Linked DNA regions of Homo sapiens: regions 2, 3 and 4 are each linked to region 1. Evidence: fine-mapped expression QTL. A gene starts in region 1. Each other region holds a variant in brackets. All regions are shown on one strand. Distances are between the middles of the regions.

The links. PIP is the estimated chance that this variant, and not a neighbour inherited with it, causes the effect.
Region 2: its variant is fine-mapped to the expression of NADK in whole blood (TOPMed, PIP 0.97).
Region 3: its variant is fine-mapped to the expression of NADK in whole blood (TOPMed, PIP above 0.99).
Region 4: its variant is fine-mapped to the expression of NADK in anterior cingulate cortex (GTEx, PIP 0.99).

What each region holds. Positions count from the first base shown.
Region 1 is chr1:1,775,988-1,781,179 of GRCh38, forward strand. It overlaps NADK (NAD kinase), which reads right to left and starts at 2,483. Exons shown (of 12, transcript NM_023018.5): 1 at 2,302-2,483. RefSeq lists a silencer at 1,999-3,198 and enhancers at 4,259-4,428, 4,439-4,498, 4,509-4,578, 4,589-4,688.
Region 2 is chr1:1,871,557-1,876,748 of GRCh38, forward strand. All of the region lies in intron 1 of GNB1 (G protein subunit beta 1), which reads right to left. Among named protein-coding and RNA genes, the nearest start is that of GNB1, 17 kb to the right of the region's middle. The variant T/C (reference allele first, on the strand shown) is at 2,779.
Region 3 is chr1:1,751,517-1,756,708 of GRCh38, forward strand. NADK (NAD kinase) reads right to left here. Exons shown (of 12, transcript NM_023018.5): 5 at 4,987-5,092; 6 at 4,742-4,827; 7 at 3,858-3,960; 8 at 3,028-3,182; 9 at 2,768-2,867; 10 at 2,535-2,692; 11 at 2,051-2,133; 12 at 1-1,544. The coding sequence ends at 1,388. It overlaps LOC112268218 (a long non-coding RNA gene), which reads left to right. Exons shown (of 2, transcript XR_002958243.2): 2 at 1-226. Among named protein-coding and RNA genes, the nearest start is that of NADK, 24 kb to the right of the region's middle. RefSeq lists an enhancer at 1,608-2,137. The variant G/A (reference allele first, on the strand shown) is at 3,126.
Region 4 is chr1:1,405,419-1,410,418 of GRCh38, forward strand. It overlaps MRPL20 (mitochondrial ribosomal protein L20), which reads right to left and starts at 1,875. Exons shown (of 4, transcript NM_017971.4): 1 at 1,713-1,875; 2 at 1,491-1,601; 3 at 391-468. The coding sequence starts at 1,799. It overlaps MRPL20-DT (MRPL20 divergent transcript), which reads left to right and starts at 2,930. Exons shown (of 1, transcript NR_170330.2): 1 at 2,930-5,000. It also overlaps the pseudogene RN7SL657P. RefSeq lists enhancers at 1,072-1,738, 1,739-2,406, 1,820-1,949, 2,407-3,073, 3,997-4,884 and 1 more and silencers at 1,590-1,649, 2,130-2,319. The variant G/A (reference allele first, on the strand shown) is at 2,663.

The DNA.
Region 1 (5,192 bases):
GAGCTGCTGGAGGAGGCCCTGTACCTTCCTGCCATGACACAGCCTCCCCCCAAGTGCTGGGCTTGTGTGCTCAACACTCCCTCTTGCTGTCATCCTACCACACCTGCAGACTGGAGGTAATCCAGATGCAAGGCCGTCGAGTCCCGCAAACACCCACCTGCCTCTTAATTTTCCAAGTGAGACCTACATTTCCTCAAGCGTGAAGCTCAATAAAATCAACTATTGTTTTCCGTTTTCATCACGAGCGCCACTTTCCCCCTATTTGTTCACCGCCTCCACTCCACAAGAACTGCTCTTGACTTGGCCAACTTTCTGGGACACCCTCACTACAAGGATTTATGAGTCAAACAGGTTTTTGTGCTAGCCTGGAAATCTAACTGCTGACAGCAGTTGTTTCAAGAAGAAAATGCTGTTTTGGAACCAAACAGCAGGCTGCCAACTGAAACAACATAAACCCACCTCCAAGTTCAAATGAAACAAACAAACAAAAAGACTGGTCCAAGTGAGGCAAGCTGTGGTGGCTCACACCTGTAATCCCAGCACTTTGGGAGGCCAAGGTGGGCTGATCACGAGGTCAGGAGTTCGAGACAAGCCTGGCCAACACAGTGAAACCCGTCTCTACTAAAAATACAAAAATTAGCTGAGCGTGGTGGTGGGCGCCTGTAATCCCAGCTACTCAGGAGGCTGAGGCAGGAAAATCACTTGAACCCGGGAGGTGGAGGTTGCAGTGAGCCGAGATTGTGCCACTGCACTCCAGCCTGGGCAACAGAGCTAGACTCTGTCTTAAAAAAAAAAAAAAAAAAAAAAGACTGGTCAAAGTGGCTTACGTCTGTAAGATCAGCACTTTGGGAAGTGGAGGCAGGAGGATCTCTTGAGGCCAGGAGGTTGAGACTAGCCTGGACAACACAGTGAGACTCTATCTCTACAAAAAATTTTATAAATCAGCTAGGTGTGGTGGTGCAGGCCTGTAATCCCAGCTACTCAGGAGGCTGAGGTGGGAGGATCAATTGAGCCCAGGAATTTGAGGTTACAGTGAGCTATAATCATGCCACCATAAACACGCCTGGAGGACAGAGTGAGGCCCTGTTTCTAACATACACACACATATACACACAGAAACATCTCGAGAGGACACCTCCAAATGATGAAGCTATTTTGTTGGGTACTGCGGTGGCACCTGTGATTCCTCAAGTAGCTTGGAATCAGCGTGCTAACACCATAAAGTGGCTGCAAAAGTCCCAGTGAAGTCACTGCTGAGAGCAAACAGGCCTTACAGAGAAGTTCCAAGGGGACAGGAAATTTCCAGAGGCTTGAGAGGACAATGTTCAGGGGAATAAGTACTTGAAGGGAATTATCTAACAAGGTGTTAAAGTAACTAGCTTCTTAGACAAGATGACATCAGGAGGAAAAAAAAACTTATTAAGGCAAACATGTCAGTTTCAGGCCAACTAAGGCTGTCAGAGAGACATGGAACACAAGAAGAGAAGAGTTTTGAAATGTATTCCCATCAAGAGCCAAGAATAATGAACTTTTGAATGTAAAACTTAGTGTGTTCCAAAACAAGAAAGGAAAAATAACTTGTTACTCGGAATCGAAGCCAAAAGGAATCTCATTGCTTGGGGAGGAGGGATGGGAGGGTGGGGGTGGTCCTTGGCCTGGGAAGGAAAACTCCACCAGGCCTTCGGAGCTGGGCACGCCCTGTTCCCACAATTAAGAAAAAAAACGACGACCTAGAGCTCAAGGCCGGTGCTGACATCTGACCTACTGGATGGCAGCCGCCTGTAGGAACATCACCATAGACTATTGGAATTTTCTGGCAAGTACTGGGCACTAAATCAGAGATGTGTTTTTAGAGAATTCCATGCCAATACTGCTGTATAGAATCTTTTATTCATACTTTCCCACTAGGTTTGGGCCCCTCTAAGCTTTCACGAGTCAAAGACCCCTCCTGCTTGCTGAAACCACCCACGGAAGGCCGGACACCGAGGACCTGGCCGCCCAAGCAGAGGCGACTGACAAGCGCGGTCCGGGCTGGACGGCCCCACCTTCCCCGCCCGGGAGAGCCAGGCCGGACAGCGGCCTCCCTCAGACCCGTCCCCAAGGCCGAGCCTCGCCCTGGGCCGTGCTGGTGCCCCATTCGGGACGGAGCGGTGGCCCGTCAGCACTTCCACGGCCTCCTCAGCAGGCCAGATGGGCAGGGCCGGCCTGGTGTCTCCCCGCCTGGCCGCGCGCTCGCGGGCAGCGATGACCCCAGGCAGCGGGCGACCCCAGGCGGACGGCAGGCCGGGTCTGCTCACTCACCGTTCGCTGCCGCGGGCGCCTGCGGGGGCGTCTACATGCCGGACCGAGCCCGCAGGCCCCGCCGCCGCGCCGCCGCCAGCCGTCGCTACCTGGCCCTTGGCGCCCTGGCCGCCTGTTGCCCCATGGCCGCCCGGACCCCGGCGCCGGCGCCGCCGAGCAGCAATGCGCCGCGCCCGCCCACTGCGCAGGCGCACCCGCCACGCATGCGCGCTGCCGCGCACGTGGGGCGTCCCGCGCGTCTGCCGGGTCCCACCGGCGCCGGGACACCCCGCGCGGGCGGGAGGCGGCGGGCGTGGCGGGAAAGAGGCGGGCGGTGGGGAAGAGGGGCGAATCGCGGTGGAGAGCAGTGACCAGGGAGTGGAGGCGGGCAGCGGGGACAGGGGCGGGCGTCCGCGACTCGGGTAGGCGGGGGTCGGCGCCCCGAGGAGGGCGGCCCCCGGCTCCCGTCCCCACTCACCTGCCGCGTCCGGAGGGCGCCCCCGGGTCCGCCCGCCACGTCTACGCCTAGGCGCCCCCGACATTGTGATCCCAGCCCGGCGTCCCGCCCCCAACTCACCGCCACCGCGGGCGGGACCTCCCGGACCACGTGGGCCGGCTCAGGGGAGTGCAGGTGCCCCGCGAGAGCTGGCCCCGCCCGCCGCCGCTTCCCTAATTACCGGGCTGTGACACGGTGTGGGCCGAGCCGGATTTGGGAACCGAAACTTAGAGCAGCTGCGGCAGCGCTGCGCTCCCTCGGGGCTGTCCGTCGGGGCTGGGAGGGCGGCCCTGCGCCTGGGGGAACCGCGATCGGCCTCACGCCCACCTCTAGCGGCCAGGTGCGCCTTGCACGCCCACGAACGTCCTCAGAGGTCTACGCTTGGGATCCCAAGGCTGGCAGTGGAGGGAGGACCCGGTGGCCTGGGGCACCTCTAGGGGGACCAGGGAGCCGTGTTTTGCGCACCCCACAGGCTGGAGGACTCGGGGAGTTGGGGGAGGAGGCCAAAGCCACAGGAGCGGACTTTGTAGTGTTTGTTGGAACTGCGGGTCCCACCCAGCCCGCACTTGCTGAACTGGTGGCTGCTCATCAGCGCCTTCAGGCCTCAAATATCCCAATAATGTGCCCTATACCCAGTTCTCAGCTCTCGAGTCACTGTCAGGTAAACTGGCAATGCACGACCAGCTGCTCTAACCTGCTGGTCCCCCAGGTGCCAGACATTGTTTTGTTTTTCTGAGATAGTGTCTCATTCGTCCCCCAGGCCGGAGTCCAGTGGCGGGCTCACGGCTCACTGCAGCCTTGACCTCTCAGGTGCAAGCGATCCTTCCACTTCAGCTTCCCTAGTAGTTGGGACTACAAGTAGGTCCCGCCACACTCGACTACTTCATTCATATATATATATATTTGTGTGTGTGTGTGTGTGTGTGTGTAGAGATGAGGTTTTACCATTTTGCCCAGGCTGGGTCTCAAACTTCACCCGCCTCGGCCTCCCAAAGTACTAGGATTATAGGCGTAAGCCACTGCACCTGGCCCAGCCATTGTTTTCTGAGGTTCAGTCCCTGTCTATACTTTCTGTGTGATCACCTGGCCCAGGGTCGGTGTGGACCTGAGTCCTCTGCAGCCCTTCCCCACACCCGCATACCTGCTCTCTGGTCAGGACTCCTGGGACTTGAATCCAGAGACACGGAACACGGCCTGGCCAAGTCTTCCTGAAAAACACAGCTCTTCAGTTCAGGACCACAGTGAAGTACAGGGCACCAAGGGTGACTGGAAAGGGAAGCAAGGATCATGAGAACTTGGGGGATTTCTTAAGCTCTGTAACTTCTCCCGGGGTTATTTTGCAAACCCAACTGTTTCAAAGTGACCACCAGCCACACCCACAGAAGCGGCCTTGAGCTGCCCAGTTCTTTTTCTTTGGCGGGGGGAGAGGGGGCGGATAAGATCATTAACATAATAATGCGTGAGCTGAGTTTTTGCATATGATCATTAGCATAATAATGCTTGATCTAGATGGCGCACCCACAAGCCAGGCACTGAGCCAGGCCTCAGTAGAATCTTCTAGAGTGGAGGCAGTCAACTGCTTCTGCAGAGGCAACCAGTGACTGTCGTGGGCCCCAGGTCACACAGCAGGTGCCCTTCGCGTGTCCCGCTGTGTAGGGAGCTCCAGCAGCTGCCCCGTCTGTGGCATGAAAACCCTTTGTCTACCCTGGGCCTGGGCACTGCCTGCAGGAGAGCTTCCCTGTTTCAGAGATGAGAAAACAAAACCAGGGCTGTGGTTTCCTTCAGCTGACAGGTTGTGCAATTTCTCAGGGCAGGCCCCGGATATGACCTTGAAGATTCAGGGGCCAAGATCTCACACCCACACCTCACCCCAGGCCTGGCCAGCAATAACTAAGACCAAAGCTGGGAAGGCTCCTTAGGGCACCCAGAATGGTCCAAGAGGCAGCTTTGCTTGGGCTGAGACCAAAGGGAAGAGATGTTCCCGCAGCAGGAACAGAAGGGTCCAGGGCTATCATGGGGGCTTCTGCCAGATGGTGCACAGGAAGAGGCTCTGCCTTCAAGGGATTGGGGGTCAGGAAAGGCCCCCTCCTGCCTGACCAGGCCCCAGGGATGGGGCAGCAGTGGGTGGCATCCCCTGCCCTGACCTTCCTCAGCCCCAGGGCTGCCATTGCTCAAGGTGGCAGTGGACTCTTCACATAATTTCGCATTGTTTTTTGTATTCTTTAAGGATGGCTCCCATGTTGTTTACTTCAGAACCCCCAAAACCTGGACCCATCCTCTTCTGGGGGTCAGCAGGGATGGGGAGGGTGGAGGGAGAAGGGGGAACGGAGGCCATGAGGGATGGAGCAGGATGGGGTGCACTGGGGTACAGGTTGCTCCTGGGGAGGCTGAGGAGAGAGGGAAGTTGGCTTCAGGT
Region 2 (5,192 bases), 96 kb after region 1:
GGCACCCCACCTCTCCTTTTAATAACCCCTCCACCGACCATCACAAAAACAGAAAGACCAAGACTTCCAGACTGGACTCCAGGCCAACAGGCTGTTAGCCGGCGGTTGGCACTTAGTTGCCCTATACCCATTTTGAGCTTCAGATATTCAAGGCATGGCTCTGCACAGCCAACAGATTTGCCTCCCCTCAGTGCTCAACATCACCACCCTCTACATGTGCAAAGCACACACAGAAATCATCCTGGCCTCCTTCCTTTCCCTACTCCCCTACACCCGGTCCATCAGCAACCTGGCTGACTCTACCACCCATTTCTTCCCATTTCCTTAGTCTCCATCCTCAGCCAAACCACGCCATTTCTCATCAACAGTCTCCTTAAAATGACCTCTGTCTCAATCTGTGCCCCCGACAATCCATTTTTCATTCAGCAATCTGAACAATCTTTTTTCTTTTTTTTTTTTTCTTAAGACAGGGTCTCGCTCTGTTGCCCAGACTCGAGTACAGTTGTGTGATCATAGCTCACTGCAAACTCCAACTCCTGGGCTGAAGCGATGCTCCCTCCTCAGCCTCCCCAGTAGCTGGAACTACAAGTGTATGCTACAATGCCCAGCTAATTTTTTCTTTTAAGTAGAGACAGAGTCTTGAACTCCTGGGCTCAAGCAATCTTCCTGTCTCAACCTCCCAAACTGTTAGGACTATAAGCATGAACCACTGCACCCAGCCTCAACAATCTTTTAAAATTCACCTTTTGTCACTTGAGGCTTAAAATTTTTCAACGGCTTCCCACTGCATCAAGGAAAACATCCAAGCTCTCTGCCAGTTTGGAAACTAGAGAATGCACCATCTGCACGAGGACCCTCACCTGGTATAAATCAAGACTGTCCTGGGCAAACTGGGCCTCTGGCACCTGCCTGAGGCCGTGTGGCCAAGGCCTGGCTTCCACCCCTACCTCTGCCCTACAGCTTTGCTCCTGTGTGCTGAGCTTCACCCGCTGTCCCTTCCGCAGGACCTCTGCTGAGCTTCGCCTGCTGTCCCTTCCGCAGGGCCTCTGCAATCACTGCCCTCTCCACCTGAAGCATAGGGGCTCCTTGCCTACCTGGTTCCTTCTCATCCTTCAGGCCTTTACTCTAAATACCCTAAACAATACCCTAAACCAAGTGCCCTCTCCACCCAACAGCTCACAGCACCTACCACAGGCCCAAACTTCGCTTCTTCCAGTTCGCCATCTCCCCACAGAGAATGAACCACCAGTTGCAACTTCTCGGTACTCAACCATCACCAAGCACAGTGTCTTGCTCAAAGTAAGTACTTGGTAAATATTTGTTAAAGAGTTCACTCCATCCCACAGATACCATATTATTAACTGGGCATCCTAAAGCAGGAAGTTCTTGAGGTCACACAGTATAGGAAAGGCTGTGATGAAAAATGGCCACGGTTTCTGCAAGTCCCACCATTAAGGACCAGAGTCTATCTCCTACTCTCCAAGCCTGTGCTAAGCCTTGTTTTTTTTTTTTTCTTCATTTTCGGTAGAGATGCGGTCTCACTATGTTGTCCAGGCTGGTTTCAAACTCCTGGCCTCAAGCCATCCTCCCACCTTGGCCTCCCAAAGGGCTGGGATTACAGGCATGAGGCAGCACTCCTGGCCTATGCTAGGCCTCATAACTTGCAATAAGCAAGGGAATGCAACAGAGGTGACACTGTGACTTCTAAACATGTCCTCAAGTAGCCTGTCAAACTCTGCTCCTGCCCTTTTGGAATTCAGCCACTATGGGAGGAAGCCTGAGCTAGACTGTTGGAGAGGCAGGCTGAGGAGATCAGAGGCACCCTGGCTGAAAGCCCATGTGGGTGAGGGCAATGGGAAGCACAAGCCAGCCTACCTGCCAACTGTTAATTGCCCTTGCTAGCGTGGCCAGCACAGTGAACAGAGATGAGCCCTGCCCACATCCATACTCCCACATGATGATGAACAAGGACTTACTGTTTTAAGTCGCTTCATTTTGGGGTAGTTTGTTACCCAGGAGCATATAACTGATGTAAGGCCATGACAATATGCTCTTCTTAAACTTGGCGCCGAGACTGGACGCAGTGGCTCACACCTGCAATCCCAGCACTTCGGGAGGCCGAGGTGGGCGGGTCACCTGTAATCCCAGCTACTCAGGAGGCTGAGGCAGAAGAATTGCTTGAACCCCAGAGGCAGAGGTTACAGTGAGCCAAGATGGTGCCACTGCACTCCAGCCTGGGCGACAGAGCAAGACTCCATCTTAAATAAACTTGGCACCGAGACTGCTGGACTGGACAATTCTCCATGGTGGAGCAGGATCCCTGTGGCACACCCCAGCTGTCACAACCACCAATGTATCCAGGCAGGCAGCGTGGGGACTAAATACAAGAGGGAACGCATACCTGCCTCTAGGGGACTCAGCACTTTCACAGGGGAAGGAAAGATTCCCTGCTTTGGAGGCATTCTTTATGTCTTCTCATTGACTTCTGATCTAGGTTACTGGTCCCCAAGGACAGTCAGTGGAACAAATGCTGGCAGCAGCCTCGATCCATCCCTGTGGAAGCTACCGAGGACAACACTCTTCAGTTCCCACAAAAGAAAGACTAGCAAAGCATAAACACAACGCGCCTCCTGGCCAGGTGCGGTGGCTCACGCCTGTAATCCCAGCACTCTAGGAGGCCGAGGCAGGCAGATCACGAGGCCAGGAATTCAAGAGCAGCCTGGTCAACATGGCAAAACCCTGTCTCTACTAAAAATACAAAAATTAGGCCGGGCGTGG[T/C]GGCTCACGCGTGTCTGTAATCCTAGCACTTTGGGAGGCTGAGGCGGGCGGACTGCCTAAGCTCAGGAGTTGGAGACCAGCCTGGGCAACACGGTGAAACCCCGTCTCTACCAAAGTACAGAGAAAGCCGGGCGTGGCGGTGTGCACCTGTAGTCCCAGCTACTCGGGAGGCTGAGGCAGGAGAACTGCTTGAACCTTGGAGGCAGAGGTTGCAGTGAGACGAGACTGCACCACTGCACTCCAGCCTGGGAAGCAGAGCAAGACTCCATCTAAAAAAAAAAAAAAAAAAAAAAAAAAAGTACAAAAATTAGCTGGGCATGCTGGCACACGCCTGTAGTCCCACCTACTTGGGAGACTGAGACAGGAGAATTGCTTGAGCCTGTGAGGCGGAGTTGCAGTGAGCTGAGATGGTGCCACTGCAGTCCAGCCTGGGTGACAAAGAGTGACACCCTGTCTCAAAAAAAAAAGACAAAAAAAAAGTGCCTCCTGAGCTTCGTTCTGTGAAGCATCCAGAATCCTTACAGCAGCGGTCACCAACCTTTTTGATGCCAGGGACCGGTTTTGTGAAGGACAATTTTTCCACAGACAGAGGGGATGGTTTTGGGATGAAACTGTTCCACCTCAGATCATCAGGCATTAGATTCTCATAAGGAGTGCACAGCCTACATCCCTCGCGTGTGCAGTTCATGACGGGGTTCACGCTCCTATGAGAATCTAACACTGCCGCTGATCTGACAGGAGGTGGAGCTCAGGTGGGAATGCTCGCTTGCCCACCTCTCACCTGCTGTGCAGCCCGGCTCCTAAGAGACCACAGCCCAGGAGTTGGGGGCCCATGCTTAGAAGACATTTTATCTTTTTCTGGTTTTTTTTTTTTGGAGACAAAGTCTTGCTCTGCCTACCAGTCTGGAGTGTAGTGGTGTGATCTCAGCTCACTGCAACCTCAACCTCTCCAGTTCAAGTGATTCTCATGCCTCAGTCTCCCAAGTAGCTGGGTCTACAGGTGCACGCCACCACACCCCACTAAACTTTTGTGTTTTTAGCAGAGACGGGGTTTTCACATGTTGGTCAGGCTGGTCTCAAACTCCTGGCCTCAAGTGATCCACCCGCTGTGGCCTCCCAAAGTGCTGGGATTACAGGTGTGAGCCATCACACCTGGCCAAGGACACTTTACCTTTTCTATTTTGTTTTGTTTTAGAGGCGGGGTCTTGCTCTGTCACAGGTTGGAGTGCAGTGGCACAATCATAGCTCATTGCAGCCTCAAACTCCTGGGCTCAAGTGATCCTCTCATCTTGGCCTCCCAAAGTGCTGAGCTTACAGGAGTGAGCCACTGCATCCGGCCCCTTTTTCTATGTAAATTATCTTACAAGTTTCTTCAACCTCCAACAGAGACTTCATTTCACAAGGCTGGCCACAAGGGGAATGGGAAGACATGGAAGGCAAGAGAGCTAGAAACACAAGGGGCGAAGGATGAAGCTCTAGGAACTTTAGCAGGTTCAACAGTGTCCCCCCCCCCAAAATTCATGTCTACCTGGAACCTGGGAATGTGACCTTATTTGGAGCGTCTTTCCAGGTATGATTAGTTAAGTTAAAACGAGGTCATACTGAATTAGGGTGGCCCTAATCTAATAACTATGTCCTTATAAGGTGAGTAGAGACACTGAGAAAAGCCCACGTAAAACAGAGGTAGAGAGTGACTCCTCTACAAGCCACACTGCTGGCACCCACCAGAAGCCAGAAAGAAGAAAGGAAGTGTCCTCCCTTGGAGCCTTCAGAAGCACTGGGGCCCTGCCAACACCTTGATTTCAGACTTCTGTCCTCCAGAACTGAGGGAATCAATTCATTCTGAGCCATCCAACTTGTGATGATTTGCTACAGCAGCCACAGGAAACTAACATTGTGTCATTTCTGAAGACCTTTACTAAGCCAGAACCACAAGGGTAGAAATCAAGTGCCCAGATCAGCTTGGAGAAGGACTTGTTTTTTTTTAATAGAGACAGGGCTGGAGTGCAGTCGTACAATCAGGTCACTGCAGCCTCGAACTCCTGGGTTCAAGCAATCCTCCCACCTTAGCCTCCTGGATAGCTGGGACTACAGGTGTACACCATCAGGCCCAGCTAAGAAAAAGAGAGAGCAAGAGAGAGGACATGCATGTGCACACGAGAGAGAGAGAGAGAGAGAGAGCGAGCGTGCATGGCCACGTGCACGAGCCAGTGAGCAAGCGCACACACATGCAAAAATGGGGTCTCACTATGTTGCCTAGGCTGGTCTCAATCTTCCCACCTCAGCCTCCCAAAGTGATAAGTGTCATAGGCATAAGCCACCACACCCAGTCAATGGAGAAGCATTTCAGGAATGAAGGCAGAGTCAAACACCATCAGTAGTAGCGGTACTGGAAGCTAACACTTTGAGGTCTT
Region 3 (5,192 bases), 24 kb before region 1:
CATGGCGGACTTCAAGCCAGGCCGGCTGCCCAGAATCACACTCAGGGTTTTTGGACGCTCAAGTCCACAGATGCTGAGGTGCCCAGACGAGGGTGAGCAGGGAGACACATGCCTCGGAGAACGTGCCCAGGCTGGGCCAGGCGGCTGCGGGAAGCTCCTCACGGGCAGAGGAGAACGTCTTGTGCCTTCCTTATCGATCTCCAGCAGATGAGGGCAACTTCGTGTGCAAAACTCAGAGAGCAGTTACTCAAAAAAAAGACACCCGGGCAGCAGTAACCAGGACACCAGGGTCCGACCACGGCCTCCACACACCTGTGCCCGTGGAAGACGCGGGCGCCGGGGTAGGCAGCATCCACGTGCTCCACAGCTGCCGGTGCTGGGCAGGCTGGAGACTCACGGGAGAGGCAGGAGGAGAATCAGCGTGTTGAGTCCCTCGCTGTGTTAGTGTGAAAAATTCTCATTACAGTTGCAAATAAAAGGGATCACGATCACTAGCCCCGGAAACCCTCATCTCCCGGACCATCAGGATCGCACTGAACAGAATGGTCCCCTAATGGTCCCTGAGGACAGCGTCTTGCAGAACATAAATGTAAACATTGAATGGCAGACGACTCCCTTCCCCTTGAAATCTTCACAAAAGTGTGTACGAGAAAGTATGTACATCAGCACTTCAGAAAGTTTAAAAGAGTCTCTAAAAAGTATATACAGGATTTAAACTACCTTCCTGGGAGCAGAAGCTACGTGAGGAATGTGTGGGTCGCTGGCGATGCCAGCCCCCTTCCCGCTGAGTGTCCCAGACTCAGTGCTGGCCTCAAGCGGGGAGGGCTGGATGGCAGGGGACGCATCCAACCCTCTCCAGAAACTGAGCAGAACAAAACCGCCTTGCCAGCCACTGGCAAGACCATGCTTTCAATGGCGCCTCCGCCAGGGGCTTCCCTGCAGAAGTTTTAGGGGAAGAGGTGCAGGTCAAGGGGAAAAGCATGGCAGCTCAAGGAAGGTTTTTGGCTGAGACATTTATTATCAACATTGAAGGACAGGTCGAGTCATTCTGACTCCTCTGAATTTCAACCGACTGATTTGCGGAAAAATATCCTGGCATGGAAATTGCGGCAGCTGGAGGCCGCGCTCCAGGGACCCACCGCGGGGTGTCAGCAGGACAGAAGCACTCCCAGCCCATTTCTCACGCTTCTTTAGAAATGCAAAAAAAGTCAGACATTTTAAAAAAACAGCTGATCTGGACAAAAGGCAGACCCAGGCTCTAACCCAGCTACAGAAAGGAAGTGGCCGTGCCACTGAGACAGGCGGTCACAGACACACGCAGATTGGTCTGTCCCCAGAGGGCGCTTGGAGGGCAGCGGAAGGATTCGGGCCTGGATAGGGGCTTGACCTAGCCCTCCTCCTCCTCCTCCTCCTCCTCCTCGAAGTGGGCTTGCTTCTTCCGGACGTTCCAATGCAGGCACTGGGCGAGGCTCTCAAACCAGTCGCTCACGGGGTCCCGCACACAGATGGAGGGGAGCGGGTAGCATGAGGTAGTGATGCTGATGCTGGGACGGGAGAGCAGCAGCCTGAGCCAGGGCTTCCAGAAAGGCCCACCCCCGGCCAAGAACCCTTCCTCCCTCCCTCCCTGGGAATGGCCGGGACTCTTTTCCTGTGGGGCCGGGCAGCCCCTCCCCGAGGCAGGCTTGAGCAGTGCCCCATGGGTGCTGGGACAGAGCCATCCCAGGTCCTGGAGGGGACGGTGCAGGGAACTGACAAACTCTGCCCCAGGGCCCTCAGGGGTGAGGTCCCAGGAGGTGGGTGGGGGTGGGCAGCAGTGCCAGGGGGGACACCCTCAGGCCTCTGCTGGGGCCAGGCCTGCATGTGCCACCGTATGCGACCCGCTGCCCCCAGGACGGGTGCCCCGACTGTGATGCTGCAAGACCCAGGGACTCAGGCCCTGTGGTGCCCTAGGGGACAAGCTGTGTCTACAGGCCAACCGCAAGAGGGCAGGCGCTGCCTGGCCCGGGGAGGAGGTTGGCAGGCAGCGCCCAGCCCGGCATGCAGCCCACACCTGTCTCCATGGCGGATCTCTTGTCTCTTCCGTCCATCAAAGGACACCCATGCTGTGTTCCTTGCTTCAGGTGACAGCATGATCTGAGGGTCAAGCAGGGAGAGGTGTGGGCCCCCAGCTGTGGGGAGGACGCTTCTAGGCACCCACCCCTGAGTGCTCGCCAGAGGTCGAAGGTTGGGCAGCTCTGACCCTGCCTTGCGGACGGTGCAGTGCACGTCCTACAGGCACCGGCCCAGCTCAGCACCGCCAGAGACCAACAATGGCAGAAAGCCCCTCAGACCCGGGCCCTGGGCACCTTGATGGACAGAACTCGGGCACCAGCAAGGGAAGGCTTGCATCTGAGGGGGCACAGGATGGCCCTAGGATGACGAGGCCGCGTCTGAGGCTGGAGCCAGCATGGCAGAGCGGGGTGCTAGGTCCCGGCTTTGTGTTGCACGGGGTCAAATGACTCACAAACCGGAAAAGGAGTGTCGTTGGCTCTGACCTTCAGCTCGACCCCTGCGGGGACCACGATGGGCCGGAAGGACAGCGAGTGGGGGCAGATGGGCGTGATCATGATGGCCGGCACGTTGGGGTGGATCATGGAGGCCCCGGCCGCGGCCGCATACGCCGTGCTGCCCGTCGGGGTGGACACGATCACTCCTGACAGGGACAGGCGCAGGCGTCACTCCCGCCCGAGGGACGCTCAGGGCCCCAGGACAGTGCTGCGGGCCTTACCGTCGCCCTGCACCGTGGTGATGAGGTGTCCGTCCAGGTAGACATCCACATTGGACAGGTAGGAGGAGGGGCCTCTGTCAATCACCACCTCATTCAGGACCTGGAGGGGCGACAGCATTGCACACTCAGGGCGGGGGATGCCGCACGGCTCGCAGACACCCTCCGTCTCACCCAGCCGGGCTCTCCGGAAGGTCCTCATCCCTGGGACCGAAGTCGCCCCACCCTGGGCCCCTCACCGAGGCCGAGGCGCCTCCACTCACCTGGTACTGCATGGCCTGCTTCCCGACATCCATGTCCAGGCCTGCAGCCTGCGAGCCGTTCTCACCCAGCCCATTGTGCACGGCCGTCTTCTTCCCCC[G/A]GAGCTCCTTCACCACCCTGACCTTCAGCCGACTCCGGAGAACAACAGCTGCGTTCCCTGAGGTCCAGCAGGAGTCAGAGGGCATGCATCAGGGAAGTCAGTGGGGTCAGGGGCCCCACCCCAGGGAGGCCAGTGGGAGTCAGAGGGCTCTTTCTTCTCCCAAGTTGACACACTTCTGTGCCTTTTTCTTTTTATTTTGAGATGGAGTCTCACTCTGTCACCCAGGCTGGAATGCAGTGGTGTGATCTTGGCTCACTGCAACCTCTGCCTCCCAGGTTCAAGTGATTCTCCTGCCTCAGCCTCCCAAGTAGCTGGAACTACGGGTGCGCACCACCACGCCCAGCTAATTTTTGTATTTTTAGTAGAGACGGGGTTTCACCGTGTTGGCCAGGATGGTCTCATCTCTTGACCTCGTGATCCGCCCGCCTCGACCTCCCACAGTGCTGGGATGACAGGCGTGAGCCACCGCGCCCGGCCGACACTTCTGTGCCTTCTGAGAGTGAGAATCAGCTCACTTCTGCCCAACACACATGGCAGCTTCAACCTGTGATCTGCTGAAACTTCTCAGTGTCAGTAAAAGGTTTGAACCACTCAAGATTTAGAAATCCCTGAATCTTGAAACCTTTAAATGTTGCTCCATGCATCATTAAATGAAAATAAACCCCCCGCAAGCAAGCGAGACAGCAGCGCCATGATCAGAGCTCCTGTGGGCTCCAGAACATTCCAACTCACCCTCTATCACCTGAGTAACTTGGGACTGAAAGTTCTCAAAGCTGAATGGGGTCAGGAAGCCCAGGGAGCCCAGGTGGAAGGCCATGACCGGAGGGACGCTGCCCTGTGAGCCGACGGAGAGGTCACTCAGTGCCCACGCCGTGCACCCCCGCACCACCCAGCTTTCCAGCAGCACCTCAGGAGGGACCCAGCTCTGTGGGGACAGCACCCCGACCCTCTGCAGGAGGGACTGGCCATGTGGACAAGCGGAGGGGGACGTCGCAGGCCAGGGTGGGCCGGGCCACCAGGGCCAAGGTTGGTGTGGGGAGCTGGTGAGGAACAAAGGTGGCAGGGCTGAGCGGCCCCCTGGGCACGGAGGGCTGGGGGAGCTGGCGAGGGCGGGTGGGAGGCAGCCTTGGGGTCGGAGCCTCGCGCCCCACAGGTGCTAATGGGGAGATGGGGAGAAAAGCAGGGCGGGCTGCGGGCATTTCCGGTGTCACCAACATGCAGTGGGCCAAGGGCAGAGCCAGGGTCCCCCACACAGCGTGGCCCTACAGCCCCAGGGGAGAGCTGTGCTGCTGAGAAACCAGGAAGAGGAGCTCAAGGGAGGCCCAGAGGGGATGGGCCAGTAGGCGAGGTCGTTTCCCAGGACCCACCACCCTGCGCCACTCCCTGCTGTCCCAGGCGGGCGCTGGCCACCCCCAGCCGTAGCACTGTGTCCACACTGCCCCTGGCCCCACCGTCGCACCCCACCGGGCTGCCACCATGGGCCTCAGTGCTGGCCGCTCTAGGTGACTGCTCTCGTATAAAGGGGTGAAAAGCAATGGAAGCCATGCTTGTGAGCCCCTCGTTACGCAGCACCTAGACTAGAACCTGGTGTGGGTCTGGAAATGTCAGCGCTTCACCTGGAAAAGCGAGGAAGCGTACAGCAGCGTCCCGTCTCCCCCCAGGCAGATGATGAAGTCTATCTGATTGGAAATGTCATCATAATCTAGGAAACACAAAGCAAAACCAAGAAGAGGCTGTCACACAGTGGCCCCTCTGTGGCGCAGTGCGCAGACACCAATGACAAGGGCAACAGTGCCAGAAGCTTCCAATGGGGCGGGGAACTGTGCTGGAGAAACCAAGGACAGAGCTGCTGACAGCCCACCTTCTCGAAAGGTACAGAATTTCTTCTTCACTGCCCCAAAGCTTTCATCGCTGGCGATGGCAGGGTCTTCTAGCACTTTCTTTTCCACATACACGATCATGTTCTCCTGGAAGCAAAGTGCCAACCTGCTCATTCCACCTGCAGACCCCACCCTCCTGCAGGGAGGTTCCCGACTCACGGGCGCTGTGGTCAGAGACCTGGCATCG
Region 4 (5,000 bases), 370 kb before region 1:
TGTCTCTGTACCACCACACCCAGCAAATTTTATTTTTTTGTAGAGAGTGGTCTCACTATGTTGCCCAGGCTGTTGCTGGCACTATTCCTAGGCACAATCTCATCACTCATCAACATGGGAATTGTGACCTGCTCCGTTTCCAGCCTGGGCTGGTTCACCCCTCCTTAGGCAACGTGGTGGTCCCTTGCTCCCAAGAGGTCACCATATTGATACCACACTTAACATGGACACCCCATCAGCATAGCAAACTACAGCCCAGAAGTCAGTCTCCAGGGATCCTCTGGCCTCAGCCTCCTGATTAGCTGGGACTACAGGAAGCACCACCACGCCCCGCATGATGGTTTCTGCAGATGTCCAGAATTTCAGTGGGACCCACATACTCACCCATACCTTAACTAAATTCCCAATGAGCGCTGGATACTTCAGTCCATGTTCCTGGCTAGCAGCTGTAATTCGATTAATCCAGAGCTGAAATAAGAAAACATGAAGATACTTAAAAATGACTTCTGGATGTTATGTCCCAGCAAAGCCTCTAATTGATCTAAAGAATATTTTTCTAAAAGTAAATAGCAAAATCAGTGAGCTATGATGGTGCCATCACTCTGGCCTAAGCGAAATCAAGACCCTGTTTCAAAATTAAAAACAGCAAAAACCCAGCTGGGCACGGTGTCTCACGCCTGTAATCCCAGCACTTTGGGAGGGCAAGGCAGGCAGATCATTTCAGATCTGGAGTTCGAGACCAGCCTGACCAACATGGCGGAACCCGGTCTCTACTAAAAATACAAAAAATAGCTTGGTGGCGCACACCTGCAGTCACAGTTACTCGGGAGACTGGGGCGGGAAAATCGCTTGAACCCGGGAGACGAGGTTGCATTAAGCCTAGATCGCGCCATTGCACTCCAGCCTGGGTGACAGCGCGAGACTCCGTCTCGGGGTAAGAAAAAAAAACCGGGGTACGTTAGATGCTAGGTTCATGAGGCTGAGACGGGAGTGGTGAGGCGCAGTAATGAGGCGGCACGTGGACAGAGTGGAGGCGCCAGCCTCCCAGAAATGCGGGGGGTTCCGGGTGGGCAGAGCTTGGCAGCAGGCGTGGTCTCTTCGAGGAGCACCACGGCAGCAGATAGTAGCCCTGGAGGGTTGGCAAGGGGCTGGGTTGACTTCAGCTGCCAAAGGGAAGGGAAGCCACCGGAGGGATGAGAGCAGCAGCGACTAGGGCGGTGGCTGGCGACGCAGGGAGAGTGTCAAGGCGGCTCTGCAGTGGCCCGGGCGAGGGGCTGGAGCAGGGGGTGACAGTGGGGGTGGCGGCGGGGCGGGAGAACGGATGTCCCACAGTTTGCCTGCGGGGCGACATAATTTGTCGGAGTTTCGAAGCAAGGTATGAAAGGAAGGGGCTGAGGGTGGCCGGGCGGCTGCACACTAGCTGGGTCGCGGCGCAGAAACGCAGGGGCCGCGAGTGCGCTGGCCGGCGGGTGTCCCGGGTCCACGCTTACGGTCCTCATGTTCTTTTTCTTCAGGTATCGGGCTTTGGTGCATTTCACAAAGGCTCGAATCACGGTTCTGACCGCCAACCTGTAGCAGCGATTTTTCCTTCCCCGGAAGTGCTGGGACAGAAAACGAGAAACCAGGGTTGTCAGCGGGGCCCGCGCCGGCCGCCCCTTGGCCCGCGGGATACCCCGGGCGCCCAGTGCCCAGGCCGGGCAGGCGGCACTCACCCTGGCGTGCTTCAGCACCTCCTGGATCCGAAAGTAGCGGTCGGTGACGCGATTCCGCAGCCAGAGCTGCGCGGTGAGGAAGACCATGGCGCCTGCAGGCCGGCGTCCCGAACACTCAACAACGCACGCGCAGCGCCGCTGCCATCTTGCCCGGGTCGGAAATGGTGGTCACGAGCGCTTCCGGGTCAGCCCCTGCGATACTTCCGGGGCGAAGGTCGTCTCCCGTCAGCCCGCGGGTGCCCAGTTGTGCTCCTGAACTCGCGGTGGTGGTGCGTGTTGGGGAGCGGATGTGGGGCCGCGGCGGGGACTGAAAGGAGAACGGGGCCGCAGCGCCCGTGGCTATTCGCGGACGATGGATAAACAGCAGCGCACGCGGACCGTCCCGGAGCACGGCCCCGGCCGCAGCTGTGGCTCCGAGGGCACCGTGAGGGCAGCGGACCCGGGTCGGGGGCCCCGCGGCCGGGGAGCTCGGGTGCGGCGCGGGCGGGGAGGGGCAGGCCGCCCCCTGGGGCCACGAGGATGTTCAGGAACCGAGGTGGAGATGGTCGCATCGGTGTGAAAGTGCCCGTTGCCTCTGAACCTTGCACTTTGTTTACTTACTCATTTTGAGACGGGGTCTCGCCCGGTCGCCCTGGCTGGGGTGCAGCGGCCCGACCTCGGCTCGCCGCGGCCTCTGCCTTCCTAGTAGCTGGGACGTCAGGCGCGCGCCGCCACGCCCGGCTAATTTTTTGTGTTTTTTGTAGAGGGGGCGTCTTCCCGCGTTGGCCAGGCTGTTCTCGGACTGCTGGCTTCTGCTGGGATTACAGGCCTGAGCCACCGCGCCATGCCTGGAAATTCTCAGCTTCGAAATGGTAAATGTGATCGCTGTGGTGCTGATGCCTGTAATCCCAGCACTTTCGGAGGCCGAGGGGGGAGGAACACTTGAGTCCAGGAGTTCAATACCAGCCTGG[G/A]CAACATAGTGAGACCCCATCTCTACAAAAAATCAAAAAGAAATTAGCCGGGAGCGGTGGTGGCGCGCGCCTGAGGTCCCAGCTACTCAGGAGGCTGAGACGGGAGGCTCGCCTGAGCTCTGGAGGTGGAGGCTGCAGTGAGCTCAGATTGCACCACCGCACAACAGCCTGGGCAGCGGAGCCAGAGTCTGTCCCAAAAAAATAAGAAGTTTTATATTATGTGTAATTTTATATTTCTGCTATATTATCGAAAAATTGGGGGTGTGCAGTTTCTTTATAACAGTTTATTATACTTGGATATTTTTTAAATCATAGAAGAGTTGGAATACAAGTACAAGGAAAACTCCCCAGTGTTCACTACCAAAATGTGCCAGCTGTTTTCATTTGTTCCATTTGTTTAATACTCTCGAACCAAATTCACCTACTATTTACGTTTTGCTCCATTTTTGAATCATTCTCTCTGTAAATATAAACATAATGGATTTTTTTCCTAAACCATTTGAGACGCTGGAGACACCTAAACACTTTGCTGTGTATTTACTCTTAGGAACCACACCGTAGAATGGTCAAAATCCGGACCCAGCCCACACTCCAGATTTAACTCGCTTCAAATGTCTTTTATACCTTTTTTTCCCTGTTGAGGATTCAGTCTAGGATGACGCACTGCATTTGTTGTTGTGTTTCTTGTTTTGTTTTGTTTTTTTCTGTTTTTGAGACGGAGTTTTGCTCCGTCGCCCAGTCTGGAGTACAAAGGTGCGATCTCGGCTGACCGCAACCTCTGCCTACCCGGTTCAAGTGATTCTCCTGCCTCAGCCTCCCGAGTATCTGGGATTACAGGCGCACACCGCCACTCCCAGCTAATTTTTGTATTTTTAGTAGAGACGGGATTTCACAATGTTGGCCAGGCTGGTCTCGAACTCCCGACCTTAAATGACCAGGCTGACCAACATGGTCAGCTACTCAGGAGGCTGAGGCAGGAGAATCGCTTGAACCCGGGAGGCAGAGTTTGCGGTGAGCCGAGATCCCGCCATTCATTGCACTCCAGCCTCGGAAACTAGCAAAACTCCATCTTAAAAAAAAAGAGGAGGCCGGGTGCAGTGGCTCTGCACAACACTTTGGGAGGCCGAGGCAGGTGGATCACCTGAGGTCAGAAATCCGAGACCAGCCTGGCCAACATGGTGGAACCCCATCTCTACTAAAAATGCAAAAAGTAGCCGGGCGTGGTAGCGGGCCCCAGTAATCCCAGCTGAGGTGGGAGAATTGCTTGAACCCGGGAGGCCAAGGCTGCAGTGAGCCAAGATCGCACCACTGCACTCTAGCGTGGGTGACAGATCAAGACCTTGTCTCAAAAAACAAGAAGAAGAAAAACTACTTTTTTTTTTTCAGATGGGGTCTCACTCTCACCCAGTCTGGAGTGCAGTGGCGCCATCTCAGCTCATTGCAGCCTCTGCCTCCTGGGCTTGAGTGATCTTCCCACCTCGACCTCCTGAGTAGCTGAACCACAAGTGCATGCCTGGCCAATTTTTGTATTTTTGGTAGAAATGGAGTTTCACCATGTTGCCCAGGCTGGTCTCAAAACTGGCCTCCCAAAGTGCTGGGATTACAGACACAACTGGCCTACCTGCAGGATTTTCAGTTTATGGACATGACTGACTGGAGACATGGAGAAGCTGTTGTTATTGGAGATTTTTATTACTCGCATTTCCTGAGCGATGGGGACACTCACTGTGGGGAAAAGCAAGAGAGATCAGATTGTTACTGTGTCTGTGTAGAAAGAAGTAGACATAGGAGACTCCATTTTGTTCTGTACTAAGAAAAATTCTTCTGCCTTGGGATCCTGTTGATCTGTGACCTTACCCCCAACCCCGTGCTCTCTGAAACATGTGCTACGTCCACTCAGGGTTAAATGGATTAAGGGCGGTGCAAGATGTGCTTTGTTAAACAGATGCTTGAAGGCAGCACGCTCCTTAAGAGTCATCACCACTCCCTAATCTCAAGTACCCAGGGACACAGAAACTGCGGAAGGCCGCAGGGTCCTCTGCCTAGGAAAGCCAGGTATTGTCCAAGGTTTCTCCCCATGTGATAGTCTGAAATATGGCCTCGTGGGAAGGGAAAGACCTGACCGTCCCCCAGCCCGACACCCGTAAAGGGTCTGTGCTGAGGAGGATTAGTATAAGAGGAAGGAATGCCTCTTGCAGTTGAGACAAGAGGAAGGCATCTGTCTCCTGCCTGTCCCTGGGCAATGGAATGTCTCAGTATAAAACCCGATTGTATGTTCCATCTACTGAGATGGGGAAAAACCGCCTTAGGGCTGGAGGTGGGACCCGCGGGCAGCAAT